3 separate regions of the Homo sapiens genome follow, and all the other regions are linked to region 3. Evidence: fine-mapped expression QTL. A gene starts in region 3. Each other region holds a variant in brackets. All regions are shown on one strand. Distances are from middle to middle. Region 1 overlaps DGKG (diacylglycerol kinase gamma). Region 2 holds the start of LINC02020 (long intergenic non-protein coding RNA 2020). Region 3 holds the start of DGKG (diacylglycerol kinase gamma).

The links. PIP is the estimated chance that this variant, and not a neighbour inherited with it, causes the effect. A credible set is the group of variants that fine-mapping cannot tell apart.
Region 1: its variant is the best candidate, but not a certain one, in a credible set for the expression of DGKG in monocytes (Quach 2016, PIP 0.61).
Region 2: its variant is the best candidate, but not a certain one, in a credible set for the expression of DGKG in tibial artery (GTEx, PIP 0.88).

The regions. Positions count from the first base shown.
Region 1 is chr3:186,230,251-186,240,347 of GRCh38, reverse strand. All of the region lies in intron 20 of DGKG (diacylglycerol kinase gamma), which reads left to right. Among named protein-coding and RNA genes, the nearest start is that of ETV5, 130 kb to the right of the region's middle. The variant G/A (reference allele first, on the strand shown) is at 4,308.
Region 2 is chr3:186,430,666-186,440,762 of GRCh38, reverse strand. It overlaps LINC02020 (long intergenic non-protein coding RNA 2020), which reads right to left and starts at 418. Exons shown (of 4, transcript NR_151710.1): 1 at 315-418. The variant G/A (reference allele first, on the strand shown) is at 3,944.
Region 3 is chr3:186,356,862-186,366,958 of GRCh38, reverse strand. DGKG (diacylglycerol kinase gamma) reads left to right here and starts at 4,725. Exons shown (of 25, transcript NM_001346.3): 1 at 4,725-5,013. RefSeq lists a silencer at 4,566-4,655 and an enhancer at 5,440-5,957.

The DNA of each region.
Region 1 (10,097 bases), 130 kb after region 3:
GAAACAGGCTGGAAAGCAGATGTGCAGAATGGTTTGTGTTAAGTGATGTAACTGGAGGTGACCTATGGGAGCAAAAACCAAGGACACGAAACGTGGCATGGAGGGTTTTCCAATGACAGAGACGCCTGAACCAAGACACGGAAAAAGAGGAGGGCAACACAGGGAGAAGGAAGCAAATGTACGAAAAGATACGAAGGAGTGAGAGGGTGCAGTATACTTGTGGAAGAGCAAGATGTTCAGTGTGATCAGTTGTATGGTCTCGGCAGAGGAAAGAAACCAAACATCTGTAATTCCCAGAAAGCAAGGAAGCAGAGGGAGGGAGAAATTTCTCCATATGCCAAAAATCAATAGGCAGGCCAACATATGACATAAATAGAGCAATCATCCATCACCCACATGATTAAGTACAATTAGAAAGACACATCCGTCAGAAAAAAAAAAAAAAAAAGATTGTAGCGTGCATTTTAATGCAAAGTATGAACAAATTCACTGTGATCTGTAGAACTGTTTTTCCTTCTCCCTTCCGAGATCCTATAAACAATACTTCTCTCTGAGGGTAGGTTCTCAGCTCACTCTTCACCTGACTGAGGTCAAGGTAGCATGGATGACATGGTGACAGGCCCACGGATTTGCACGTAAACCTGCGTGCTCGCCTAACAAACGAAGACAGAAGGGCTGAGGTAGCACCTATTTCACAAGGTCACCGAACGCTTCCTATGAAGAACTTTGCATACATACTGCTTCTACCCTGCCTATTCGCCCATGTCTAAAATACCCAGGAGTGCCCAATTTGTCCACTGAGAGGCAGGCAAGCAGCCATTTTCTTCAGGCTTCCTTATTTAGCATTGGAGATGGTTTTAAATAGGCAGGTGGTTGTTGCCATGGTTACCCCATTACACCAGCGGCTAAACTTAGGAAAGGCCGCAAGGCATAGGAAGAAAGCTTGATACCCAGGATTTGGAAATGTAAACGGCATTATCAAACAAGGCCTATTTTACTCAGCTGAACTGAGGTTCTCCAAAGAGTAGTTACTGCTTGGCCGGAAGCCTTTACCATTACTGCCCAGGTTTGGACTCTCAGGGATAATCTTGAGGTTAAATCTTGGGAGTTGTCATTGCTGTGTTTTGTTCTGTTTTGTTTTGTTTTCAGCAAGGGAGAGTGACTAGTCAGGTCCGGAACACTTACCAGGAAACCGGAATCATTCACGTTGCTGATTCCCTTTTCTTGGCTATTCTAACAAGAATTCTTAACCTGGGATCCAAGGGCTTCAGGGGTTTTGAGAACACCTTGAAATTGTACTAAGGTACTGAATGTATTTTTCTGCAGAGAATGTCCATAACTATCAGAAGATTCTTAAAGGAACCTATACTCCCAAAATGTTTAAAAGTCACAGGTCTGAGGCCTCTTTGAATCCTAAGAGGCATCAAATTATGACTCAAATGTTGGGGTTTCAGGAAATTCTTCCTCCATGGCCTCTCTAGATGGGTTGTTGCCAGGGAAGATAGTGGGTTCCAGAAAACCAAGTTATGTTCTCTGATGGAATAGTTTCATTAATGGAGCAAGAACCAGAACCGAGGAGGCAGGAATACGAGCCATGTATGATGGGCAAAAAAGAAAAGGCCTTTAACGGCAGAGATGGGGTTATTTTTGGCCCTGTCTACCTCCTAGTTATCAATAGGCTAATCATTAATTGCTAATTGAGGAATGTTAGGGAGATTATCGTCTCACTGTTGGCATAAAGAACAAAAGAGAAATTTGATTCAACTGAGATTCTAAAGTGTTTGAAAGTGATCTGGAATAAAGGGCACATAAGATGTGGCCCCTGCCTTCAAGGAAATCGTCGTCTAGCAAAAGAAAAGGAAAAATAGTGCTCAAGTATTCTTTACAAAATTATTTTAACATACAAGGTGGTTACATTTCATAGGTGATATAGTATACAGGAAGTCGTATAATATGTAAGAACTTATTAATGGTCATATCCCAAACATCATTTGCAAATGGATTGTTTTCTTTTTGGGGGATGTTTTTGGTCTTTTTTTTTTTTTTTTTTTTTTTAGAAAGAGTCATTCTGTCACCTGGCCTGGAGTGCAGTGGTGTGATCTTGGCTCACTGCAACCTTTGCCTCTCAGGTTCAGGTGATTTTCCTACACAGCCTCCTGAGTAGGTGGGATTAAAGGCACACACCACCACGCCTGGCTAACTTTTCTTCCTATTTTTAGTAGAGATGGGGTTTCACCATGTCAGCAAGCCTGGTCTTGAACTCCTGACCTCAAGTGATTTGCCTGCCATGGCCTCCGAAAGTGCTGGGATTACAGGTGTGAGCCACCACTCCTGGCCAAATTGGTTGTTTTAGGTGTAGCAATAGTGTTAAAGGGGAACCTGACTAAGAACTGTTTTCATTTTTTTAGCTCCTCCTAGATGCCAAGTGGTGAACTAGGGTCTTTAAATACATTAAATTATTTAAATCACAAAACAACCTTTCAAGATAAATATTAGCATTCCCATTTACAGATAAAGGAACTGACACTGGAAGAAACCAAGTCAACTAACAAAAGTCATGTATTTTTTAGGCAGTGGGGCTAATTTAATTTCTGACCTAGCTCTTCACTCCAGAGTCCAAGCTCTGTTTGCCGCAACTGCTGTCTCACATAGATTTCATTGAGCAAGCACTGATGTATACCAGACACTCTGATAAGTACTTTATACATCATCCCACTCATTGCTCACAATAACATGCAAGGGTAAGTGCTACTGTCCCCATTTTAGAAATGAAGGAACTGAGGCTAAGGAGGATGGAGCTGTCATTGGCATCATCTGCCTTTATGGATTGTCTCTGTGGGAAAATGCCTGCTGAGTTCCAAAGGGGAGGAGAACAGGTACACCATCCAGTCATACCTTGTATGGTGTGAGCATTCTCCCTGTTTCCACGTCCACAGCAAGGAGCAGGACTGGCTGTATGATCTGTGTGACCCAGTGCAAAATTAAAAATGTGAGGCCCCTTCCTCAAAAATGGGACAGCAAAGCATTAAACTAAGCACTGAGCCCTCTTAAGTGTGGGGCCCTGGAGTCCACATCTCACACCTATGAGGTGGCCCTGGCAAGGACAGAGGAATTAATAAAAAGAAGACACTTTTGCCAGTAGTCACAGAGTAGGGTGTTTGCAATAAAGTCAAAAGAATGGAGGAAAGAGGGTTTCAACTTAGGGAGAAGGAGAGGGACTCTCAGTCCCACAAACAGGCAGCAATCAGTACTAGCAGAGGAGCCAAGAATCCCGTCAAAGTCTTCCAGATAGCCAAAAACCAGCCCACCATGAAGTTTCCAGATTAAGTCTCCATGAAGGGTTTTGCATATGAAATCTATACATAAAAGCCACCTAATTCTAATGTCACTGTCAGTGAGTGTCTAGAAAGAGAAGTCTAACTGTGGAATGTTTTCATTGTTGGTTAGAAACTCAGAGTACTTGCGGAATGTGTTATTCTAAACCTGTTGAGTGTATCCACTTGACCGCGTCTCTCAGCAGTTGAGGCTGAAGCAAGTTATTTCCTGTTAGGCCCTTCAGAGGGACCGAAGCAGTGCTTCATTCCTACTAGAAGCTGACCACCTTTCTCAAAAGCCCTTGACTAATTAACAGGTTCTGAAATATTAGCTTTCTTGGAGCAGGTCCCATGGAGTCACTGATGAGGGGCTCCCCAGAAGCCCTAATGTAGCTTGAGTTTTTAAGAGGTTGGAAATATACCTTGTAAATAACTAAGCACTTAGTAACTATTTATAGAAGAAGGCAGCAGGGTATAGAGTAAGTTGGCATCAAAACTTGGCTTTGCCGCTTATTAGCTATGTGACCTTGGGCAAGTTAATCTTCTTAATCCTTTGCTGCCTCTTTTGAAAATCTTGCAATGTTGCTATAAGTATTTAGTGACATAATACCTAAGTTCATAGTACACAGGAGGTTCGCAATAAACATTTGTTGTTGAATATCATTGAATAACAAGCATTGCCTTAAATTGACGATAAAGTATTGACAATAAAAGGGTTGTTTTTAATGGAGTGACAAATTGGATTCAGTTATCACAGAATCAATGCTCCATTGACATGGCCTTTAACCTGAAAAGTTGGAGGACAACTAAAAGTTGGAGGAGACCCCAGCAGTGATGCATTGAATCTGCCCAAATCCTTCTCCTGGGGGTGGGAATATGGCACCACTTTGGTTGGTTTGGATTCTACAGGACAGAAGCTCTAGAGGAAATCCCCTTCACTGGCTCCATGGAAGTCCAAGAGGCAGAGGTTGGGGATCTGGACACTAGAGATTC[G/A]AAGTCCAGTGCCAAATCCAGGCTAGCAGGATCAAGGGAGGGGGTCATAGACCCCAGGTGAAATGGCCTCAGGAGGAACAGGGCAGGAGTGAGTAAAGGAGAGTGGCAGGACAGATTCCATGTGCTCCCTGGGTGCTTCTGGCTTACTAGCAGGGGTCATGGACTGCATGGCAGGTAGGCAAGTGGCCCTGTGGTCAGATGCTGGGGATGTGACTAACCCTCCCTCACGGATACTTCTTTCCCCTCACCCACCACGTACCTCTCCCCAACCCTGACCTCAGATAAAGACAGAGATGTTCTGTGGGGAACAAAATAGAAACCGACAAAGCTCAAGTCACACAGTTCTGAAAATGAAAGGAAGGGCTTCCTCTCTTGAATACCTGCAGTATGCTCTGCCGTCACAAGCATAAAATATATCATGATTTACATAAGATTTTCTTCTTATATCTAAAAATGAAACCCTTCTAAGTTATTCTTTCCTGGCGCCCTGTGAGGTAGCCCACTATTACAACCCAGATGTGTGACTTTCTCAAGGCATAAAGGTTCAACAGCAGCAAATATAGCAAAGTTAAAAATCCTTGCCATCAAAGTCTTCATTCTGTGCCCTGAATTAGGCTTTGCCTCTCTTCATCTAATATTTGGCACCTCAAAAGAGACCTGCTGTAGGTAGCCAGAGGTCCAGACTGTCTGCACCTGCTTCCCTCAATATAGCAAACTATTTTTCTTAAATATCTGGGATTCAGAAAAGCCCCAAATGAAATTAATTGTGGGATTTTCTGTGTTTTTTCTTATTCCTGTAGGTATTTATAAAGAAATACAAACCTTATGTTTTGTGCTCAAGAACCTTTGATTTTCAAGTCAATTCTGACAGAGCAACTGACTTAATTACTTGAATGTTTATATACTAAGCCACAAAAATGTTTTGTCCCCCACCCTCCCCACCTCTCTTTGGGAGAGATGCAGAGAGTAAAATGAATGAAATATGGGTTCATGTTTTTTTCATCAGGTGCTCAACGTTACACAAATGCAGAAGTCCAGGGTTTTTTGTTGTTGTTGTTGGATTGTTTATAGTTAACTCTTGATTATTCGCAGAAAAAAGGGAGCAACCACGTGGATCATCTACAGTGGTGGATGATCAAAGATTTTGGGAGTCTGTTATTAATATTTGTATGCAGTTCTCCCTGCCCTAACATTCGTAGTATTTTAAATAATATGATGAAATCACACTGACTCTTAACAATCCTTTCATTTTCCTCCTGGGTCCCTAGTCCGCGTGGGAACAGACAGCACAACCTCTCAGACTGTTACACAGCAGCAGCCTGTGGCGTCTCAAGCCTCCCTACAAGGTTACCCACTGGCCAGAACCGTTTCTTTCTGTAGCTTAATGGGCTTTTTCTTGTAGCCCCTGCTAGGCTAGAACAGGAAAGGTCTTATTCATGTCAACAAAGAGTAGAATCGGTTTGTGATCATATCAGAAGGAACTTGAAAGCACGCTATGTTTTCAAGACTATAGGCCAGATAATCCCAAAGTTATCAGTATTTACTGACTGATTGATTTCTAGAAATATTTCCATCAAAGAACTCAAGATGTAATGTGTAATCAGTTCACAAGAGTTGAGGTTAGCACGATAACCTTATGGAAGAAAATCAAAGCACACAAATTCAAAGTAAGGTAGGAACTGGCTGGATCCTAACGTGAGTGTTGACAGTCTGGATGCTTTCCAGAAGGGAGAGGTTGAGAAGGTGCTGGAACTTTAGATGTCTTCGAGCAAAAGGCTGAATCTGGAATTGTTTCACCCAAAGAAGAGAAGCCTTAGAGAGAAGTGATCATTGGCCTCAAATATTTAAAAGGCTTTTCGTATAAAGCAGGAATTGTGTTATTTTGCACAATTAATCAATGAAAAGGTGACTGGAATGCAAGACTGGGTTAAGCCCCAAATAGGACATTAATTCTACTGGTCAGAGCCATCCTCAAGTGCAGTGAGCTATTGGAGAAGGTGATGAGTTTTCCTATTTTACGTTCAAGCCCATGCTGGCAATGATTTTGGAAGCAAGTGCCCAGTAGGAAAGGTTCCATTATCATACAACCTGGATTCAAATCCTGGAGTTCTCATTAACCACTATGTGTGACCTTGACCAAGTTACTCTCCCTGAACCTCAGTCGGCTCACCTGTAAAACTGAGGTATAATATTATGTGAGTTTCCTGTTGTTGCTGTCATGAACTGCCACAAACTTAGTGGCTTAAAACAACACTACTGGCTGGGCGTGGTGGCTCACGCCTGTAATCCCAGCACTTTGGGAGGCCGAGGCAGGCGGATCACGAGGTCAGGAGATCGAGACTATCCTGGCTGACACGGTGAAACCCCATCTCTACTAAAAATACGAAAACAAAATTAGCCAGGCGTGGTGGTGGGCGCCTGTAGTCCCAGCTACTCGGGAGGCTGAGGCAGGAGAATGGCGTGAACCCGGGAGGCGGAGCTTGCAGTGAGCCGAGATCGCGCCACTGCAGTCCAGCCTGGGCGACAGAGCGAGACTCCGTCTCAAAAAACAACAACAACAACGACAAAAACGGCACTGCTGTGTTACAGTTCTGGAGGTTGGAAGTCTGAAATAGGTGTCACCGGGCTAAAATCAAGGTGCCATCAGGGCTACATTCCTTTCTGGAGAGTCTGGGGGAAAAGCTGTTTCCTTGCCTTTTCCAGGTGTCACCACTCTTTGGCTCCTGGCCCCCTCCCATTGTTGAAGCCAGCAGTGGCCAGTCGAGTCCTTCTCATATGGCGTCCCCCTGACATTCTTTCTCCTGCCTCCCTCTTCCACTTATGAGAACGCTGATTGCACTGAACCCACCCAGAAAATTCAGGATCCTCTCCCCATCTCAAGGTCAATTGACTGGCAACTTAAACTCTATCTGCAACCTTAATTCCCCCTTCGCCCCTTTGCCACGTAACCTAACATACTCACAGGCTCTGGGGATCAGAACGTGGACATCTTCAGGGCATTGTTCCACCTACTAGCCTCATAGGCTTATTTCGAGGATCTATTGGAACAATGCATTTAAAGTGTCTATTACAGAGTCGGGCACATCAGTGGTAGCTATTATGATTGTTATTAATATTCTTATTACAAAGACAGATCCTACATCAGATAATAACCATGTTAGATGATTCAGAAGCCATTAAGACTCTGAATTTTGGTGATTCTCTAATATAGGCAGATAAACATCTATTTAATATTAAATAGGGTGTAAGTCATCAATGTAGAAATATATGGAATTATTTTTCTCATCATTTATCTTGTTTAAACGTTTTTCAATAAAATATCAATACATTTATCATGTAATTAAATAATACATCAGACAGTGTTATTATATAGCACATTGCAATATCATTATAAATAATTTGGAAAGTTCAGAAAAGTTAAAGTAAGAGAAAAAAAACCAATCACTCATATTCCCATCATGGAGAAACACAATATTGCCATTTTGGTGCATTACAGCAGTTAACTTGATAGATATACCTTAAAATATTTGTGATAATGTGTTTTTATAAAGCTATACATATCATTTTTAAACTAATTTTTCTTTATATAAGTCATTCAGGCTCATTGTAAAAAAAATCATATTTTGCATCCCCTCCTCCAAGAAATAAACACTCAGCGCTATAACATATTTTCTTTCAGCATTTTAATTGCACAATTTTATTGACTTGAGATCATGCTCTAGACACTAGTTTAAAACATTAACATAGTAGCATTTATAGGTTATGAAGGGAAGGTGATAGAAAGGAGCTGAATGGAGTGAGTTCATCTGCTGTAGGAGTTTTATTGGCCTTTTCCAATTAAAAAGTCCCAACGCTTTTGTTCAGTCATTGAGTGTTTTAAAGATACCATTACCCAAGTCCCTTCACAATTGAAATAACTATTTCAGATGTTATGCAGCTCTACTATCGTGCAGGGTAAATGAAAAATATTTTATCCTTTCAACACGATTCTGGGTCCTGTCTATAGTTTTGCTGTATCTCAAAAGAACCAGTTTGTGTTTTATTTGACCACCAGAGATAGCAAGAGTTGCTGTCTGAACTATGCAGTAGTATAGTTTTTGTTTTTATTTTTGTTTTTTTGAGACGGAGTCTCTCTCTCTGTCACCCAGGCTGGAGTCAGTGGCTCTATCTCGGCTCACTGACATGGCCGCCTTCAGGGTTCAAGCAATTCTCCTGCCTCAGCCTCCTGATTAGCTGGGATTACAGGTGCGCGCCACCATGCCCAGCTAATTTTTTTGTATTTTTAGTAGAGAGCGGGTTTCACCATGTTGGCCAGGCTGGTCTCAAACTCCTGACCTCAGTTGATCCAACCACCTAGGCTTCCCAAAGTGCTGGGATTACAGGCGTGAGTGACCACACCTGGCCTAGTATAGTTTTTAAAGCATGAATAACCATGAGCTCATTTATTAAAGTGTTTAGAAAGGTGGTTTTCCCAATGTAATCAGTCCTGCTCCAACCCATACCAACAATAGTAGCCATCATTTATTGAGAGCTTTCAAGAATCTCATGTACATTATTTTTAAGTGGCACAACTCACCAAGTGTAAGTATTATTGATCCATCTTACAGATGAGAAAAGTGAGGCTCATAGAGATGATGCAACTTGCTCAAGACCACACTAGTTACTAGAGAAGCTACGATTCACACCTAGGCCTGTCCACTCCACATCTCCTCTTAGCCTGCTACAATTCCCTGCCTCTCCATGTGCCCAGTTTTGTGCCCCATGACCAAAGATGCACCCAAAAAAAGACTAGAAAAGAGCCATAGATATGATTAAAGGGCCCATGAGAAAACCACAAGTTATCCAAAATCACTTTTCCTGGAGAGAAACAGAGAACGTACTGGGAATGGGCCTCAAGTGTGTGAAGGATTCACAACAGGAAATAGTGACTGCACCTCCTTACTCTTCATCTCAGTTCAGGAAAGAATGAGAGAGGGAAAAAATGTGCTCTAAAAGTAAAGAATTCTCTTTTGGATGGGAGCAGGAATCTTCTGGCCTGGAGACATATTAAAGACTGAAATGAGTTATTGAGAGTAGTTTTGGAATCTCTTGCAAAGGCTTCCAAAAACAGAGAGTTGCATTCATCCAGGATGATAAACACACCACCTTCTCTGAGCCCAGCAGTGTACTCATTGCACCCACCAGGTCCCCACCCAGATGGGAGCTTTCTGCCTCCCACTCCACAACTGACCAAGCTGCACAGTTTAATTGCACAATTTTATTTACTTGTGAGACCGCTTGCCTCCTGTGCTCCTCACTTCCCAGTTGGTCCCCAAGATGTTCCATCCTCAGGATTTCCTCAGCCACCCTCTGGCCCATCTCGATGCCCTTCCCATTCAGGCCCACCCTGCCTGGAGCTGCCCATTAGTCTCCCTGGGACACGTTTGTGGTCCTGTTGCTGCTGCACAAGCACCTACTTCCACCACCCCCCTCCCACGTTACATCCCATGCTTGCATTTAGCGCCCTTTATAACATTCTCCTCCTCAAACACCAGCCTCACCTTCTTGCTTGCTTGCTCTGTTACTCTCACCTTCCCCACACAGCTGCTCTCATTCCCTCAATCCCTCAACCTAGATGACATCTCCTCTTGTGACCTAGTCATCACTTGTTTCAAAATGCAGCACAGAATATTCTGAACGAACCTACTTAACCAACCCATTTGGTACTCCACTTTCTCTTACACTCCATCTCCAATGTTTTGTTGTTGTTGTTGTTTTGTTTGTTTGTTTGTTTGTTTGTTTTTGAGACGG
Region 2 (10,097 bases), 74 kb before region 3:
GTGTTTGGATGAATAATCAATGAAGATATTAATAATTCATAAATTATATGCTTTTTAAATAACATTTACTTTTTCCTTTATCCTGGCAAAATCAGTAACTATGTCATTGTACTCAAGATTTTCATGTAATTTGTGTTCTAGGGAAAGTAATGATCTAAAGCTGCATTTGTAATATGATATACCATGTAACATATGATATGATATATAAATATGATATGATATAGGATACAATATAATAGCCATAAAATAAATGTGGCTGTTTTAATTTAAATTATAGAAAATTTAAAATTCAGTTCCCCAGTTGTACCAGTCACCTTTCAGACACTCAGTAGTCACAAGTGGCTAGTGGTTACCATATTGGATAGTGTGGATATAGAGCATTTTCATCATTGCTTAAAGTTCTACAGTCATGCACCAAATAATGATGCTTCAGCCAATGGCAGACCACATATACAATGGTGGTCCCATCGGATTCTAATAGAGCTGAAAAATTCCTATTACCTAGTGATAGTGTAGCCATGGTAACATCATAGTGTAATGCATTACTTACATGTATGTGGTTATGCTGGGGTAAACAAATTGACTGCTCTGCCAGTTGTATAATAAAAGTATAGCACATCCAGTTATGTATAGTACATAATACTTGATAATAAATGACTATGGTACTGGTTTATGTATCTACTATACTTTTTGCTGTTATTTTAGTGTACTCTTTCTACTTATGAAAAAAAAGCTAGCTGGAAAACATCCTCAGACAGGTCCTCCAGGAAGGATTCGAGAAGAAGGCATTGTTATCAGAGGAAATGAAGCTCCACGCTTGTTATTGCCCCTGAAGACCTTCCAGTGGGACAGGAGGGGAGGCGGAAGACAGTGATCCTGATGATTCTGACCCCGTGTAGGCCTAGGCTAATGTGTGTATTTGTGTCTTCGTTTTTAACAAAAAAGTTTAAGAAGTAAAAATTAAAAATTTCAAAAATAGAGAAAAGCTTATAAAGTAAGGATATAAAGAAATAAAATATTTTTGTTCCGCTCTACAATGTTTGTGTTTTAAGCCAAGTGTCATTACTAAATAGTCAAAACGTTTTAAAAAAATTTAAAAGTTTATAAAGTAAAAGAGAGTAAGGTAAGGTTAATTTGTTACTGAAGAAATAAAAGTATTTTAAAATAAATTTAGTGTCTTCTAATGGACAGTATTTATAAAGCATAGAGTAGAATACAGTAATGTCCTAGACCTTCACACTCACTCACCACTCACTCACTGACTCACCCAGAGATATTTCCAAGCCTGCAAGTTCAATTCATGGTAAGTGCCTTCTACAGGTGGACTTAAAAACAATCTTTTATGTTGTATATCTACTGCAGCATTTCTGCATTTAGGTATGTTTAGATACACAAATATCATTGCGTTACATTGCCTACATTGTTCAGTACAATAACATGCTGTGCAGGTTGGCAGCCTAGGAGCAATACGCTATACCATATTGCCCAGGTGTGCAGTAGACTACACTCAAGGTTTATGTAAGTACACTCCATAATGTTTGTGCAATGATGGAATTGCCTCACAATGCATTTCTTAGGACATATCTGTCACAAAGCGACATATAACTGTATTAAGTTGCACTGATCTAAAGTATTAAAAATTAAGATATAATTGCATTGAAATTATACCAAATTGAGTATACTTAATAAAAATATAATTGCGGTAAATATGAAAGATAAAAAACTAAAATTATTTTTATATATATTTTCCATAAGTTTTTCTAAAATTTTCAAAATGATTGTTTAGTGATACAATCTAAATGATAGTGAATGAATACCAGTGTTTTAATAAAATATTTAAATAAAGCTGAAAAACCTTTTATTTAATTTTTAAGTTTTAATTAAATATTATTAATTTTTATACAATTAAAACTATTTGCAATTTTCATGTTCAATGTCCATCTAGTTGCCAATGTAAAGAATCATTATCAAACTTCCATAAATACACACACACATTTAAAAGTGATGTGAAATGTTTAATATTGCAAAATGTTCCCCAGGCATCTTGTGCAATTGTTTTGAATAGTGCACTAATTTGTGAGAATCTTTGAAACCATGAATTGGCACACAAAAAGAAGAAAGAAAATGGATATTTAGCACTACTGGAAATCGATACTTCATTATACAAAATGCTGAAACAGAGAGATTTCACAAGTTAATCAACGTGTCTTTTCTCTTATATGGGCACTTCTGTCATTAAAAATGTTCCCCACATATCTTTTGATAAGACTCAGTGGTAGCAGCAGCACAGCCCACACACCTTCCCATCATCTGAACACGGTGTCCTTTTGTCCCATCATCTGAACACTGTGTCCTTTGTTTCAAGAACATAGGGCAAGGGTTGTGAAGACACGCTTCCCTACGTGAGTTGTGCGGTGGATGTTAAGGTTATGGGTTACACTGCGCCAGTAACAGAGGCAGCCATGTGTTTCTTTGTAAATATGTTTTGTTGTGTGTTTGTGTTTACGTGGAGCCCACTAAAGCACAGGCCCAGGGTGGAAGCCCTTCTTGCGAGGACCAATGGCATCTCTGTGTCAGGGAATTGGGATAGAAGACTGGGTTTTTCAGGCCGGGCGCAGTGGCTCACGCCTGTAATACCAGCACTTTGGGAGGCCGAGGTGGGTGGATCACGAAGTCAGGAGATCGAGACCATCCTGGCTAACATGGCGAAACCCCATCTCTACTAAAAATACAAAAAAAAAAAATAGCCAGACATGGTGGCGGATGCCTATAGTCCCAGCTACTCGGGAGGCTGAGGCAGGAGAATGGGGTGAATCCCAGAGGCGGAGCTTGCAGTGGGCTGAGACTGTGCCACTGCACTCCAGCCTGGGTGACAAAGCGAGACTCCATCTCAAAAAAAAAAAAAAAAAGAAAACTGGGTTTTTCATCTCACAGTATGCTACTGACAACTTTCAGTACTTTTTCTTCTGGTTCCTTACACTCAGGCCCTGCTTCTCCAGAAAACTTGGTGCCTAAGCAATGGACACAATGGTTGGAGTATCTGAAATTTCAAAATTTATTTATTTAATTATTTAAAAAACATTTGTATAGGGCTTACTAACAACTATATACTTTAAATGTGTTAATTCACTTAATTCCCATAATAACTTTGTGAAGTATGCACTATTGTTATTTAATTTCATATGTGAGTAAACTGAGGCACAGAAAGATTAAATAACATGCCCAAGATCAATCAGCTTGCTTGTGGAGAAGCCAAGCTTCCAGTCCAGGCAGTCCTGCTCTACAGATCATCATCTTAGCCTCACTATCAATTTGCTCCTCTTTTAACAAAGATTATTTTTTTCCCATTTAAAAATATATTTTTAAATTTTGATAGTTAATATATTCCTATAGTTTAAACAAAAAGCAAAATGATATAAAAATATGCATTAAGTGCTGAGACACATGCAAAGGAATAAAATTGGACACCCCCACCTCATACCGTATACAAAACTCCAAATGGATTAACAAACTAAATGTAAGAGTTCAAACTGTAAAGTTCTTAGAAGAAAACATGGGCCAATCTTCATCACCTTGGATTTGGCAATGGATTATTAGATATGCCATCCAAAGTGTGAGCAACAACAATAAAAAGCATAGATAAATTGAACTTTGGGAGGCCAAGGTGGGAGGATCACTTGAAGTCAGGAGTTCAAGACCAGCCTGGCCAACGTGGTGAAACCCCATCTCTACTAAAAATAAAAAAACTAGCCGGGTGTGGTGGCATCCACCTGTAATCCCAGCTACTCAGGAGGCTAAGGTGAGAGAATTGCTTGAACCCAGGAGGCGGAGGTTGCAGTGAGCCGAGATGGAACCACTGCACTCCAGCCTGGGCTACAGAGTGAGACTCCATCTCAAAAAAAAAAATTAAACTTTTATATATCACAAACATTATGGAGAAAGT[G/A]AAAAGATATTGGTGAAAGAAGAAAATTTCAATTAAACAGGAGGAATAAATTCAAGAGATTTATTCCACATCCTGGTGACTACAGTTAATAACAATATATTATATATCTGAAAATTGCTAAGAGCGTACATTTTAAGTGTTTTCATCACAAAAATGATAAGTAGGGAAGGTAATGCATATGTTAAACAGCTGGATTTAGCCATTTCACAATGTATACATATGTTAAAAGCATGTTGTACACCATAAATATATACTATTTTTAAAATTTGTTGATTAAAAAAATAAAGTCATGCTGAAAGTTAAAAATGAAAGTGAAAAGTCAACCTATAGAATGGGAGAAAATACTTGCAAATTATATATCTGATAAGGGCCTAATATCTAGAATATACAAGGAATGCATAAAAGTCAACAGCAAAAAGATTTTTAAAAATCCGGTTTTGAAAATGGGAAAATGACTTAAATTGACATTTCCTCCAAGAAGATATACCAATGGCCAACATGCACATGAAAAGATGCTCAACATCATTAATCCATAGGGAAATGCAAATCAAAACCACAATGAGATACCACTTAACACCCACTAGGCCTCTGCCTCTCCCTCTCCCCCTCCACCTCCCTCTCCCTCTTTGCACCGTCTCCCTCTGATGCCCAGCAGAGGCTGGACTGGACTGCTGCCATCTCCACTCACTGCAACCTCCCTGCCTGATTCTCCTGCCTCAGCCTGCCGAGTGCCTGGGATTGCAGGCGCGCGCCGCCACGCCTGACTGGTTTTCATATTTTTTTGGTGGAGACGGGGTTTCGCCGTGTTGGCCGGGCTGGTCTCCAGCTCCTGACCTCGAGTGATCTGCTCGCCTCGGCCTCCCGAGGTGCTGGAATGGCAGACGGAGTCTTGCTCACTCAGTGCTCAATGCTGCCCAGGCTGGAGTGCAGTGGCGTGATCTCAGCTCGCTACAACCTCCACCTCCCAGCCGCCTGCCTTGGCCTCCCAAAGTGCCGAGATTGCAGACTCTGCCCGGCTGCCGGCCCGTCTAGGAAGTGAGGAGCGTCTCTGCCTGGCCGCCCATCGTCTGGGATGTGAGGAGCCCCTCTGCCTGGCGGCCCAGTCTGGGAAGTGAGGAGCGCCTCTTCCCGGCCGCCATCCCGTCTAGGAAGTGAGGATCGTCTCTGCCTGGCTGCCCATCGTCTGGGATGTGGGGAGCGCCTCTGCCCCGCTGCCCCTTCTGAGATGTGAGGAGCGCCTCTGCCCGGCCGCAACCCCGTCTGGGAACTGAGGAGTGTCTCTGCCCCGCCGCCACCCCGTCTGGGAGGTGAGGAGCATCTCTGACCGGCTGCCCCGTCTGAGAAGTGAGGAGCCCCTCCGCCCGGCAACCGCCCCATCCGGGAGGTAGGGGGCAGCCCCCGCCCGGCGGCCGCCCCGTCTGGGAGGTGGGGGGCGCCTCTGCCCCACCGCCACCCCGTCTGTGATGTGTACCCAACAGCTCATTGAGAACGGGCCATGATGACGATGGCGGTTTTGTCGAATAGAAAAGGGGGAAATGTGGGGAAAAGAAGGAGAGATCAGATTGTTACTGTGTCTGTGTAGAAAGAAGTAGACATAGGAGACTCCATTTTGTTCTGTACTAAGAAAAATTCTTCTGCCTTGGGATGCTGTTAATCTATAACCTTACCCCCAACCCCGTGCTCTCTGAAACATGTGCTGTGTCCACTAAGGGTTAAATGGATTAAGAGTGGTGCAAGATGTGCTTTGTTAAACAGATGCTTGAAGGCACCACTCCCTAATCTCAAGTACCCAGGGACACAAACACTGCGGAAGGCGGCAGGGTCCTCTGCCTAGGAAAACCAGAGACGTTTGTTCACATGTTTATCTGCTGACCTTCCCTCCACTATTGTCCTATGACCCTGCCAAATCCCCCTCTCCGAGAAACACCCAAGAATGATCAATAAATACTAAAAAAATTTTAAAAAAAAGAAAGAAAAAGAAAAGAATAAAGGACTTATTATCCTAAAAAAAAAAACAAAAAACAACAACAAAAAAACACCCACTAGGATAGTCACAATAAAAAAATTTCTAATTTAAAAAATGTGTTGGCAAGAATATGGAGAAATTGGAACCCTCACACATTACTGATGGGAATATCAAATGGTGCATCCACTGTGGAAGACAATTTGGTGATTCCTCAAAAAGCTAAACAGAATTGCCATGCAATCCAGCAATTCCACTCCTAGATGTGTACCCCAAAGAGCTGCAAACAGGTGCTGAAACACATACTTACACATGAGTGTTCATAGCAGCACCCTTCTTGATAGCCAAAAGGTGGACACAATGCAAATGTTCATCAAGTGATGAATGAACAAGCAAAACGTGGTATCTAAGTACCATGGATTATTACTCAGCCATAGAAAGGAATGAAGTACTGATACATGCTACACTATATGTGAAATTTTAAAATATCATGCTAAGTGAAAAAAGCCAGACACAAAAGGTCACATATTGTGTGATTCCAGTGATACGAAATATCCAGAATGGGTAAAGCCACAGAGTCAGAAAGCAGATTAGGAGTTGCCAGGAGCTAGCGGGAGGAGAGAATAGGGAGTGGCTGCGTAGCGAGTATGAGATTTTCTTCTGGGATAATGAAAATGTTTACAACTAGCTAGTGGTAGTGGTTGTATAGCATTGTGAATGTAATAAATGCCACTGAATGAAACACTTTAAAACGGTTAATTGTATGTTACATGAATTTCACCTTTTGTTTTTAAAGGATGCATTGAGATATCATGCCCCCACTCCTGTCCCTCATCTTTAACCATTTCCACATTTCCTTTATCCTTCCAGGGCTGAAGGATGGAAACAGTATTCTGCCTTCAAAGAGAAAGACAGGCAAAACCCCAGCAGGCGTGTGTTGCCCCAAGTTTCAGAGCCCACAGAATATATAGAAGAGCATTCAAGATAGGACTGTACTAAACATTTAATGTAGAAATAATGCCAATTCTACATTAATTCTTCTACAATATTGTGGAGAGGAAAATAGTCCCCCACTCATTCTCATTAAAGCCAGCATCGCCCTGAAACCAAAACTAGACAAAGACACTGTAAGAAAACTATAGACCAATATCCTTCATGAAAATTGATGCAACAATTTGAAACAAAATTTTACCAAATAACCAACAATATATAAAAAGGACAATACATTATGACCAAGTGGGATTTACGCAAGTTGAATAGTACTGGGTTGGTTGAACACTCAAGAATCAACAATGTAATTTGCCATAGTAACAGATTACAACAACAGCGACGTGTGATCATCTCAATGGATGCAGAAAAGCCATTTGACAAAATCTAAACACATTCCTGATTTTAAAAAAAAAACCTCTTAGAAAACTAGGAATAGAAAGGAACTCCCTCCACCTGATAGAGGCTGTGTACAAAATACCTAAAACTAACATCGTATTAAATGCTTTTTCCCTAGTACCAGGAACAAAACAAGGATGTTGGCTCTCCCCATCCCTATTCAACAACATATGGGAGGTTTTATCTGGGGCCATCAGGCAAGACAGAGAAATAAGGTTATCCATATTGGAAAAGGAGAAATAAAACTGTTCTTATTTGCAGGCGACATGATCATTCATGTAGAAAGAATGCAATCTACAAACAGCTGCTATAACTAATACATGAGTTTAACAGTGTTGCACAATACACAATTAATATACACAAATCTACTTTATTTCTATATTATAGAAATTAAAATTTAAAAATACTGTTTACAATGTCTCAAAATATTTGAAGCACTTAGGAGTAGATTTGACGAAAGATGTGCAGGATCCATACCCAGAAAGCCACAAAACACTATTGGGAGACATTAAAGAAAACCTGCATAAATGAGAGAACCCCCACAGGAGGAGGGGAGTCTGGTTCTTTGGTAGAGTGTCCCAGCCTCAATGGGGCTTGCTCAGATGGTCAGATCTGAACTACAGTCCGTCAGTTATAAATCAGAAGAAGTATGCAGACAAAGGCTTGGGCAGTGAGCTTAGGCTGACATGTTCTTCCCTTCTGTGTGGCTTATGGGGGATGCCTATGAGCTGATTGCAGAGGTAGATGTATAATGGAAAGAACATGGGCTTTAGGGCCAAGCATACCTAAGCTGAGTCCCAATGCTGCCACTTCAGCTGCTTGACCCTTGGGTAAGTTGCTGTCTTCTGAGCCTCCATTTCTTTATCAGTAAAGGAGTGACTACAGCAATACTGGCAGATTCTGGCCAGAGGCTCACTGATCTCTTCCTGGCATCAAGGAAAGCCACATTTCCCAGTCTCTCTTACAGTTAGTTTGGGGCCATATGATTAATTCCGGCTAATGTAATCAAGTGATGTGACAAATACCAATTTCAGACTTGGTCATAAAACCCCAGTTTGACTAATCATGTTCTTTCTCTCCCCGAGGCCATGGCTGGAAGTGAAAGCTTCTGAGATGGCAGAGCCACGTGATAGAAGGAGCCTGGATCTCTGGGCTACTGCCTGGAAGACAGCTGCTCGGGAGAGCTGCTTGACTCAGTGGACTGTGACATGAACTAGAATTAAGTTTTGTGAAGTCACTGAGACTTTGGATTTGTTACAGCAGTTAGCATAACTATTAACTTACCTTGCAGGGCTGGTGTTGGAATTCTTTACAGCGTATCCATCCCATGGGTCAGTTTCCTCTGCCTTTGAATAGGGTCTAGCACATAGTAGGTGCTCACATAATTGTGATTACAGTTTTCAGGAGAGCTCCTCCTTCTCTCCAACCTGCTGCCTCCTTCTGTTTAAGATACTGCCAAGTACCAGCATCTCAGATACTTTGACTGCTTAAACCTGTTTGATATTACTTAGGGACAGAGAGTTCAAAATGAGGGCACAAAAAATGTGAGAGCCAAGATAGAGACAATTTTTACAAAGCTTCAAATGAACAGATAAATGTACAACAATAAAATTTAGGGACTTCCTGTAGTCACTTGGAAATTTCTGCTCACAGCCTGCCACCTTTTTCCCCACTACAACAGCTTTTGCTGCTCGGTGTGGTGCCTCATGCCTATAACCGCAGCTATTCAGGAGACTGTGGTGGGAGGATCATTTGAGGCCAGGAGTCTGAGACAAGCCTGGGCAACATAGTGAGATCCTGCCTCAAAAAACATAAATTAATAAGTTATATGGCTACTTTATTTTAAAATAAAATATGTATATTATCTTCCTCAAGTTGTTTAAGCTAATTGACTGCTCTTCACTTACCATTTGAACCACCTATTTTACTCTACAGCATGTTTTCACTTTGACCAAAAATAAAATCATTAGGGGAATAGACATATTAAGGTCACAGAAGTCTCAACAATAAAATAGGTACTGCTGAGAGCAGAGATAAGGAGAGAAGTAGAAACCAGTTTCTTATTCCTCAGCATATCTCTAGAAACTGCCATCTCTGTATTACTAGCAGCTTATCCAAATCCCCAGTGTCAATAAACAGGATGAGGATTCCGTCTTTGGATGGCTGGCAAATGAAAAATATGCTCTTGTGTTTTAAAGTGAGTGTCAAAAGTGATATACGAGGGGAGCCCGGAGTCCCTTTTCTGTCTCCATGGAGGTATGTGGCAAGTCCTCTCCTAAGTGAGAAGCCAAACTTAAGCCAAACCTCCCTAGGCACACTCCAAGGAAATACCAGGGCCAGAATTAAGGCTGCCCGAGAGGAGGACCTGCAGGAGCCAGGGGCTTACTCAGGAGCAAATCCTTTGCCTTCGTGGGGAAGGAAAGCGATTCACCTAAAAACACTGTAAAACTCTGAACACAAGGATTGATTCACTTTGTCTACCAAACCCTTCATTTTGGGTGGCTAGGAACAGTATAAATTGAGTACCTTTATGCATTCTTACCGAGCAAAGCTTTGTGGAAGATACAAAGGTGACCTCTGTTCCCAAGAAATCAGACATCGCAAACTCAGATGCTTGCAAGAGTCAGAGAGGTAACATGACTGAGTGAAGAGACCAGATCCGTTATAAGAAACCTGAGAATGGCCACTGCCATTCAGCCTCAGAGTCCAGGAGACAGCAGCAACTGAAGCAGCTGGGCACCTGGAGACCCCACGTCTCTTTCAAAAGGTGCAGCCACCACTCAGATCCAGAAGGTTATTTCCATG
Region 3 (10,097 bases):
GTGTCTCCTTCACTGTCAAGTAAACACAATCAAAGTTCCTGGGAAATCCACTGTGGGCAACTCCAGTGACACTGTAGAATTCCAGGCAGGGGGCAGATGTGCACTCTGGTAGTCCTGAAGTCCACCAGCATCTTTCATGTTAAAATATTACTATATTTTAATGTGGTGTATAAAGAGTTGCTGACCTGAATTGCTGTTTCTTAGGAAGCAGACACATTAGCAAGTAGTATAATAACTAGGCTTTAAAAAATAGACTACCTTAAGGGAACAGACTATCTTCAATAACTGTATTTTACATTTTTGCATAGCACTTCTAAAACACTTTCAAATAAGCTTCTTCATTTAATCATTACCTTGAGATGCATGTATTACTATCCCCACTTTGCAGAAGAGGAAATTGGAGCTTAGAGACTCAGATTAGCTCTTTTGACTCCATCTAATTCTAAATTATCTATTTATTATTCTGAACCCCATGGCTTCTCCTTTGTGCTTTCCTTCAAGCTTATCAGTTGATATTGTGAGAATTTTCCCAGCTTGCCTTGTGGAGGGCCCCACCCAGGCAAGGGGGCGGTACTTAAAAGTTGTTCAGTTGCTAGTACTTAACAGAGTATCAGTGCCAGAAAGGGTTGTAGGGACCATTTCCAGCCTCCTTATTTTCTAAGAAAACTAAAATGAGGGAATCTCCTGCCTACATTCCCAGGGCTGGATCCCAAATCCCATTCATGGCAAAACTGTGACCAGGAGCTCCTGGTTCTCCTGTTTCCAACCCACAGTCTCACTCCACCACAGCCTTCACAGTCAAAACCAAGAGGAAAGTTAAGGTTCGGACTTGGCTAGTATCTGTTCCCATCCTGTCATTGCTTGATAACATGGAAAGATTCCATTAATTATGAGATCATAAAATATTAGGTGGAAGACAGCTTGGAGATAATCTGGTATAATCCTTTGTGTTCTGTACATGGGAAAAGTGAGGCCTAAGAAGGCGAGCAGAACCCCCCCGGCCCACCTTGCGGTTGGTGACCCTGAACTCAGCTGTGCTCCAACTGTCAAGTGCTGTTCGCTCAGCTTGTCAGAGACAGTGGGACTAAAAATTTCCAGACACAGGTACCTGACTCAGCCCTCGCTTTGCCTTGGCAGTGGAGATCAGGCATCAGCTGCTGGCTTGGATGATGTGTTCCCAGAGCAACATGGTGAGTGTGAGCTGCCAACATTGAAGTCTCAGGGAATGTAAAGTGTTGAACCAGTTAAACATCCAAAAATGCCCCGTCTCTCAGAAACAAGGGTGACTCATCACAGCGCTTGGGCTACAATTGGGAATGGCATTAGGGTGGCTGTGGCGGCTAAAAATCCATGCTTAGAAGCCCCCAGCTTCGTTTCCTCTGGCTTTTTGTTCGCAGGTCTTTTCTCTGGCTGAGAACCAACATACACATGCTCCACTGCCAAACCCAGCCCTCCTCCTCCATGAAGCCTGCCTTGACTCTTTCAGCCCAGAGGAGGTCTCCTTTCTCAAGCCCTGAGAATCTGCCCTGTGCAATTTGGCACTTGATTCCATACTGTCGTTCACTGTTTCTTAACCAGTGGAGCGTTTGTTTTATAACTGACATGGATTGCAAAATCTTTGAGGAGAGGCACTAAGCTTCCTCCTCTGTACCCTACAGTAAGTCTCAGGGTGTCACCACAGAGCAGAGACATGCTCAGACTCACAGATAGTCCTGACCTCAAGACTCTTTCTGCTTTACCTTATGTTTGCACATACAGCAAATGCCCAATAAATCCTCACTTGTTTCACCGTAGCTTCAGCCTTTTCAAATAAAGAGCTCAGTTGCAGGGCCTCTGTCAGCCCATGCAAATTAGAGAAAAGGCATCCCTCCCTCCAGGCAGACATAACCCTAACAGGTTGTGTGGCTGGGCAAGTGGGGCATGAGTTGGATTTCAGCCCCTTAGCTGGGTGCCCTCTGCAGCAAGCCACATAAGCCACCTGGGCTCTGGCTCTTCGTGAGAGCAGCAACAAGGACTCCCTCCCCACAGTGCTCCATTCTGATGGGGAAGGCCTACCTTGGGAAAGCTGGCATCAGATACTTCCCAGCTTGCTTCCCAGCTCATTTCCCATCAAAAACAAACAACAAAAAATCCACACCTGCCATAGCTCCTCACTGTGGAACCCAAGTCTATGCTCCCAGAAGAGCATTTGGAGACTCCCACAATACTGTCCCAGCCTTCTTTTCTTGTGCTGGGAAGACCCAGAACTCACCATGAATTGTCCTACGTCTCTGCTTTTGCTTTCTCCCAGCCTAGATTGCCCTTGTCCTGTTGATCTTTAAGTGAGATCTCTATTCCCCTTTAAAATCCGATCGCAAACCCTACCTCCTCCATGATGCCTCCATTAGCACTAATTGTTCTTGGTGCTTCTTCCCGCCCCATCCCTCTTTGCCTTCCACATTGCTTCAGCCTCTACTACCACCCTTTTCCTCCATGTTATTAGCATGTAACTCAGTCCACACAGCCTTCTCTGAACTCCTTCTGCAGCAACTCAGATGCATCATTTGGCTCCATCCTGATCCTAAAGGAATCCATTTGCAAGCAAACCGATGAACAATATTGACTTTACAAATGATTTCTTTCATAGGACCGGGGGCTTTCATAGCCCACCCCACAGCAAACTACTTACCAATCTTTGCAAGCATCTCCCCTGTCCAAATCCCTGGACAACTTGGCAACCCTGTTGCCTGTTCTCAGGCAAGTTGCTTGGCAACCCTGTCCTCAGAGCTCCTCCCCTCTCGTTACCCTTCCCCAATGTGCTCTCAACGAAGCTAAGGCTCCACACTCAGTCTCTGCATGTCTTCTTCATTTGTTCCATTCAATTTATTTCCTTCCTGTCCTAATAGGCAGAGCAACTCAATGTTGTCCTAACACCTATTTGCAAACATGTACCCCAAGTCCATTATGATGCTCAGCCAAACACAGGGTCTCCTTCAGTTTAGCCTTCTTTAGAAGGAGTCAAGAATAGACAGCCAGAATGTTTTTCTTGTGACATGTATGTGCATTTTCCTCCATTGAGCATGCAGTCAAAAAAAGCAAGGATTGTGTCTTCCACATCCATGCAACCTAGCAGAGTGAAAATATATACCAGAAACCTGTGCTCAGGGCTCCTCTCTTCCAGGGATGAGGACAGTTCTAAGCCCTTTCTGTCTCTCAGTTCTTCTTTCCTCCCAAGTAAGGCCCAGGACTGGAGTTACGGGGAAGCACCTGAAGACAGAGTAGGAGTTTAATAAATAGCTGTAAAATGAATGAGTCAGTGACTGAAGAGGAAAAAAAGAAAGGACAAGGAAGAACTTTGAAGGCACCCTCACCAAGATTATTTCAGCCTAGCTGAAGGAAACTTTGAGAAGCCACCCAGGGTGATAGAATGGATAAGACCCAGAGGATAAGAGGAGTCGCAAACACGGGGTTCTGGTATCAGCTCTGTCTTCATCACTGTGTGGAATCTTAAGGAGATCTCTCAGCTCTGTTTCTCATCTGTCTCACCAGCCTGCCTGCAGATAGCCTAGTATGGACACCACCCAACAGGGTCCTCAGGGCTGTTTGACATTCGTGTTTGAGGCTTCTTCCCCAAATGCACAGACACCCAGAGCCCCTCGGCGCCTCCACACTCTGCGGAAAGCTTTTCTTGGCTGCAGTGCTGGCCCGGGGACCTTCACTGCCCACTGGCAGAAAAGAATTCTCGGCTGTGGAAATGAGTAAACTCCACATATTTTAAAGATGACAGTCTAAACTCCTAATGACTCTAAATGTGGTGTGAAATGGACAGCAGTCATCTTGCTGTGTGACATGCCTGAAATAGTGTCACCACCACCATCACCCCCTCACGTGGACATGCACGTCATGGAAAGAGAAGCAACAAGTCATAGTGCCTTGGCTAATGTAGCTCCCCTATTCCCCCCGACCCCTCACCCCAGCGTCTTTTCTGTGCTCTTCTACATTTTAAAAAAAGAAGAGATCTATTTATTCTGCAGGAATACAGTCCAAGGTCACCTAAAAGCAAAGGAGAATGGGAATTAAACACACCCAGAGACCCGACCCATCCAACAGAGTCCAGCTCAGGCAGGCTGTGCCAGTCTCCACCAGGCTACGAGGGGAAAACCTTTTCGAGTTGAACTGCCACCAATCCACTGCCACCGAAGTCAAGGTTGTCAGAAATGACCCTCTGGACAGGGCTAGTGATTTGGATCCTAGAGATACTGAGTTCCTGGGAAACAAAGAGAACTTGTTGATTTTGTATTTTTATTTTTTCTTCGATTTGGTCGGGATATTACGGTAGCCTTGACCAGAGTTGAGAAAAGGAAACGCCCAGTCGGTATTTATTTGTCAAACAGTTGTCCTTTGCCTCCGGGGTCAGGGGCCCTCTGGTACCCACCACTGTTGCATCCTCTCCACACTCCTAAGCCTGTAACTCCTCCTCCCAAACCGAAGCCCTGTCAGTAAAAAGCGTCCTAATGATGCCCGCGCCCTAGTTGCACCAAAGGGGGTCAGGTTCCCATCGAGCGGATCCACATTCGTGTGTGCGCACGCGTGTGCATGTGTGGAAGCGCGTGTCTGTGTGTGCCGTGTGTGTACGCGCGCGCGCCGGTGTGTGTGGCGGGGGCGGGCTCTGCGCCCGGGGGCAGGGCTCCGCAGTGAGAGTGGCAGCTGGACTTGCCAGGCTGCGAGGGGCAGGGCACAGAGCCGCAGTGCCGTAGTAGCGGGCCACGGAGATAGACAGCTTTGGAGCTGCTGAACTCCGAGCACAGGGTGAAGACCCCGGCGCTACCAACCACAGCCTGGCAGCCTGGTCTCCGCGGCACCCACTGGGGCTGCATCCCCCTCCCCCGAGAGGGCTGCGCAGGCGGGAAGACGCCCAGAGGCCAGCTTCGGTCCCCCTTCTGTCTCTCGGTTCCTCTTTCCTCCCAAGTAAGGGAATAAACCGCGAAGAAGGAGCGCCCCGGGCCACCGCGCAACCAAGTGTTGCCTGGTGAGGTAAGACGGCGGCCGGCGCGGCGGAGGGGGTCCCCGGCTCAGGGAGCACCCGGTGCAGCAACTTGGTAAAGGAGGGCAAAGCGGGAGCCGGTCCCGCGGCCAGGGAAGGGGCTGCAGCCAAAGCCACGGCGCCCACCCCGACAGTTCCACCTGCCACAAAGCCCTGCAGGAAGGGATGCCCCGCTCGAGGGGTGCAGGCTTGGGGAACGCACAGGGTGGGGCTCGGCTCTCTCTGCGACTGAGAGGCCCCCTCAAGCCTCAAAGCTGTGCGGGTGGGAGGCGGCCTTGCTCCAGGCAGTTTGCTAAAGCAACTGGTCGGATTTCCTTCTTCTTCTGGACTTAACCTTGGCTCCTTGATATCCAGTTCGCGCTCCAGGCAGTCCGAGAAGCAGGAGATGCTTTTCCTAATGTCTGGCCGCCAAAGCCTCCGACCGTCCCGCGGGGTTCTAGGACTTTGGGGGCACTCCACAAAGCCCCTGCGCAGGGCGACTTAAAGGGAAGCTGAAGCGAACACGGACACCTCAGAGAATAAAGGAGGGAAGGGTCGAATCTGAGGTTGATCTGTGTAGTCTCAGAGTCACAAGATGTGTCCGTGTGTGTGCTTGTGTCCTGAGGAGTGCGTACCCGGAGTCACCTGTGGTGCTTTCGCAGACTCCACCGGTCCACCTCCCCTTGCCTAGTCTGAGATTTTCTTCGTTTGAACTAGTGGAATAGAATTAGGGGAGGGGGCTGTGGAGTTCTAAAAAGCCCTACAGGTGATTTGACGTGCTGCCCCCATCCCCACCATCACTGCAGTGGAAAGCTTGGGACTAGAGCTAGAACCACCTCCCAGATGGGAGGGATGAGCTGCGGAACTCAGGGTGGCGGTCGAGACCCCTCCCCCAGTCGCCCCCCGCGGCGGGAGCGTCTGCTGCAGCGCGAAGCGATCTGTGGCTGCGCCGCAGTGGTGCCCGGGAGCGCTGTGAACCCGTGGGCGCGCTCTCCCGCGCTGCGCCGCTGCCTCCTCGGACTTCATTAGCATACGATGACCTCTCTGTGGGGAGGAGGGCCTGGGAGGGCTGTTTGTCATTCCTTTATTTTGGGGGCTTGGCGACGACACTTTGGATCTGGAGGTGAACACCAGGGGTCATGATGAGAGACAGTGGTCAGGACACAGGACTGGAAACGACCCCTCTGGTCTGGATGGGGGAATCAACTTTGTTATTTTGGTGCTTGGGATTCTCTGTCTGTAAAATACAGCTGGCAGAGCCACTTGCTGGCACACAGGGCACCCTGGTTGTCAATGAAGGAAATTAGATCATAGAGGGCAAATGTCGAGGTTTGGTCATGAACCCAGGCACAGACACACACCCCTTTATATTTTATGTCCCTCTCACTCTCATTCCAGGCATGTGTCTAACATGGGAAGGTACTTAACTGTTTGTCATATTAAAAGACTACATTTGCTGGAGATTCCATTCCGAATATGAATTATACTCCTTAAATAAAACGGCTGCAACTAAGCCAACTTCCCGGTCGTACTCCTGATCTATGTCTTTTTTGCCAATCACCCTTAACGTTTACACCCAGCACTATAGGCATTACTACAGGTATTTTTCTGGGAGGGGCTTTAGGGTGGGAAGCTAGTAGATGAGTCTTTCCTACCTTAGAATTTTATGGAGTGGTTGGTTCAGATCAACCGAGACATGGGGAGAAAACGACAAACATCAGCGTGTCTTGAAATCTAGACTCTCAGAGATGGGAGTAACTACTAAGATCATCTGTTCCAGCTCCCCCAACTGCTCCAACTCCCCACACAACACCATCAACAGATGGTGAGGATCCCTCCAACCCGGACACTCCCAGAGGCCCAGGCTGTGCATGTGTGAGCCTCTGCGAGGAAAGAACCCAGAAGCCAGCAACTCTCCCCTCTCCTACTGATGGGAGTTGGTGGATGCTGGCCCCATCTCCTCCCCTGGAAGAGAAGGGGGAAAAGGGCGGGGAAGTACCTTTTCTTTGTGGTAAAACTTTAAAACTTTTAAAATGTATATCTTATTGTATTACATCATTATAATGTACTCTTTTAGTATAAAAGTAATTCATGTTCATTGCCTAAAAATTGGGAAGTTGAAAAGTATGCAAAGAACAAATCAATCACCCATGATCCTACCACTCCCATCCCACACTGTTAATATACTGGCATATTTCCTTTCCATCTGTTTTTATGCCTCGAAATTATACAATCCATAGAGAGCCAGCATTTATTGGGTGCCTAATAAGTATACTTTGCATGGTGTTAAATTTTATATTCATTATATCCTTTAATCCTCAGGAGTCCCTCTGAGGTGTTATTACTATCAATCCCATTTTTCTAGGGTTGCATTTTTCTAGGGTTCTAAGACTTCAGGTGACTTGCCCAAGTTACATAGCTAGTATGTGGCAGAATCAAGATTCAAACCCAGGCTGTCTGACTCAAAAGTATGGTTGCTGAGCCCCTGTAGCTATTGGTTCTCTGCTTTTTTCTGAATTAGTGTTGTAGCAAAAGACCTTCATGAACATTGTTTTCCTGGCTGCATATTATTACACTGTTAGTTATTTAAGTTGCTTCCTGTCTTTAGCAACTACAAATAACTCTGGGCAAAGTCTTTACTGCACACACTTCCCATTACTTCCTTTGGATAGATGCCTAGAAATAGATCACCAGGCCAAAGGGCATGAATGTTTTAAGGCTCACAGTATATATGAGAAGCCACTTTTCAAAAAGGGTACACTAATTTAGGATTCCATTCACCAGAAACAACTCGGCCATAGTTCAAGCAGATGACCTTTAGGAATCCAAATAGGCCAAGGCCTCACACGACCAAGCCACATCACACGAGCATTCTTCAGTCTCATGGAAGAAGGAATCACACATATCACCTTGCTTTATACACTCGGGAGGGATTATGGAAACCATACAACATAAAGCTATACCTATTTTTATGTGAGCAAGTATCAGCTGCAGAATTCTCTAGCTAAATGTCACATACTAACTTTGAACAAATCAAACCATCATGTAAAATATACAAATGTGTATAATGTCCCACTTCTCCATACAAGTCATTATAACAACATTCACTCTTGTGAACGTGCATCATGATCACAGCCAGGTTCAGCAAGCTTAACCCATCAGCAACAGCTTCCTCACATACTGGCCATATTCAAAGAGTTGTTTATTTGTACCAAGTATCAGAATTCCACACCCAACCATAGTGAGAGCTGATGTCACTTTATAAGTAACAGAGTTTGTCTGACTAAAAAAAAAAAAGAAATCAAGGCTAGTAACTATTAATAGTAATAAAACAATTTAAAAATAAAGTTATACCCATCATTTAAAAAAAATGTCCTCAGGTGGAAACAAAATGTGGCTGGCAGAAGAGAGATTGAATTAGGCAATACAAAACACACACACACACACACAAAGGGTTAGAAGAAAACAAACTGGCCCTAGCTATGAGTTGTTCCTAGAGCCTCGTTGATCTCCAAGCCACCTCTGCCACCAGCAGTGGGTTTAGTAGCCCTGGAATATAATCTGTTGTTGCTCCCACTCTGAGATCAATTTATGCAAGATTCAGCTCAGGTCCGGAAACATCCTTCAGGGAAGCCCACCCTAGAGATGTCCTGAATCCACAGCACCTGTGCGTAAGCTTACCTCGCTATGGCGAAGTCACTATTTGCATATCTCCCACTGAACTATGAGCCCCCTGAAGGCAGAGACCATGTCTAATCCTTTTCTGTATCCCCAGCACCTGAGATAGTGCCAATCCATAGTCAACAATTAAATGTGACGAATGAACGAATAAGAGAATTTTCCAGGTCCTGTACTGGATGCTTTACGTGCATTTCTCTTTCAGCATACCTTTATTCTGCTCAGGCTAGTCAGTCCCAGAAATATACCTGAAAGGTGTCTAGAGCTGTGCTGTCTGTTTTCACATGTGACTATTTCCTGTTTAACTTTAGTTCATTAAAATTAAATGAAATTTAAAATTCAGTTCCTCGGTCACACCAGTCACATTGCTAGTGCTTACATGCAGCATGTGATTTCTGGCTATCATATTGGAGAATGCACATTTAAAAGATTTCCATCATTGCAAAAAGTTTAACTGGACTGTGCTACAGTGTAAGCTTGGTGCAAGCAAAGTGTGTGTCTATGTCTGTCTCGTTTTCCACTGTATCCTCTGCACTAGCACAGTGCCTAGCCCCGAAGAGATGAGGGAGAGAAAGATAAAGGAGGGATGGTGGTAGTAAATGTTGTGGTAATATTAGCAATAGCACTTACTGGGCACCGACTCTGAGTCCCACATTGGGCTATGTTCTGTGCACGCATAGCTTCACCTGATATTCACATCACTACACTCCTGGTATTAACCCCATCTCACAGATAAGGAAACTGAGTCTCAGAAAGTTTCAGTAATTTGCCTATGGTCACAAAGCTGATAGGAGAGACTGAGATTGAAACTCAGGTCTATATGATTTCAAAGCCTTTTCTCTTTATTTATCTTCTCTTTTTTTCTTGGACCTTTTGCTTTACTGCCTCAATAACTGCTGTGTGTTGTGATGTGGATTAGGATTGCCACCATCTTGGCTTCCTGGGAAATCACAGAAAGGGGACTTTTGAAAGCTTTCCAAGAGAAACAATGGGTATAATTTATGACTCTGAATCACATATCAAGAGTGCAAAATTTTGCTCAGGGTCTTAAGAGAACCTGTCCCTGGATGGGTGAAGGAGGGAGAAAGGAACCCATCCATAGTGTGGCCTGACCTGATTTCAGCGTGTCTTGAAATCTAGACTCTCAGAGATGGGAGTAACTACTAAGATCATCTGTTCCAGCTCCCCCAACTGCTCCAACTCCCCACACAACACCATCAACAGATGGCGAGGATCCCTCCAACCTGGACACTCCCAGAGGCCCAGGCTGTGCATGCATGAGCCTCTGCGAGGAAAGAACCCAGAAGCCAGCAACTCTCCCCTCTCCTACTGATGGGAGTTGGTGGATGCTGGCCCCATCTCCTCCCCTGGAAGAGAAGGGGGAAAAGGGCGGGGAACCAAAAACCTACAAGAGCAG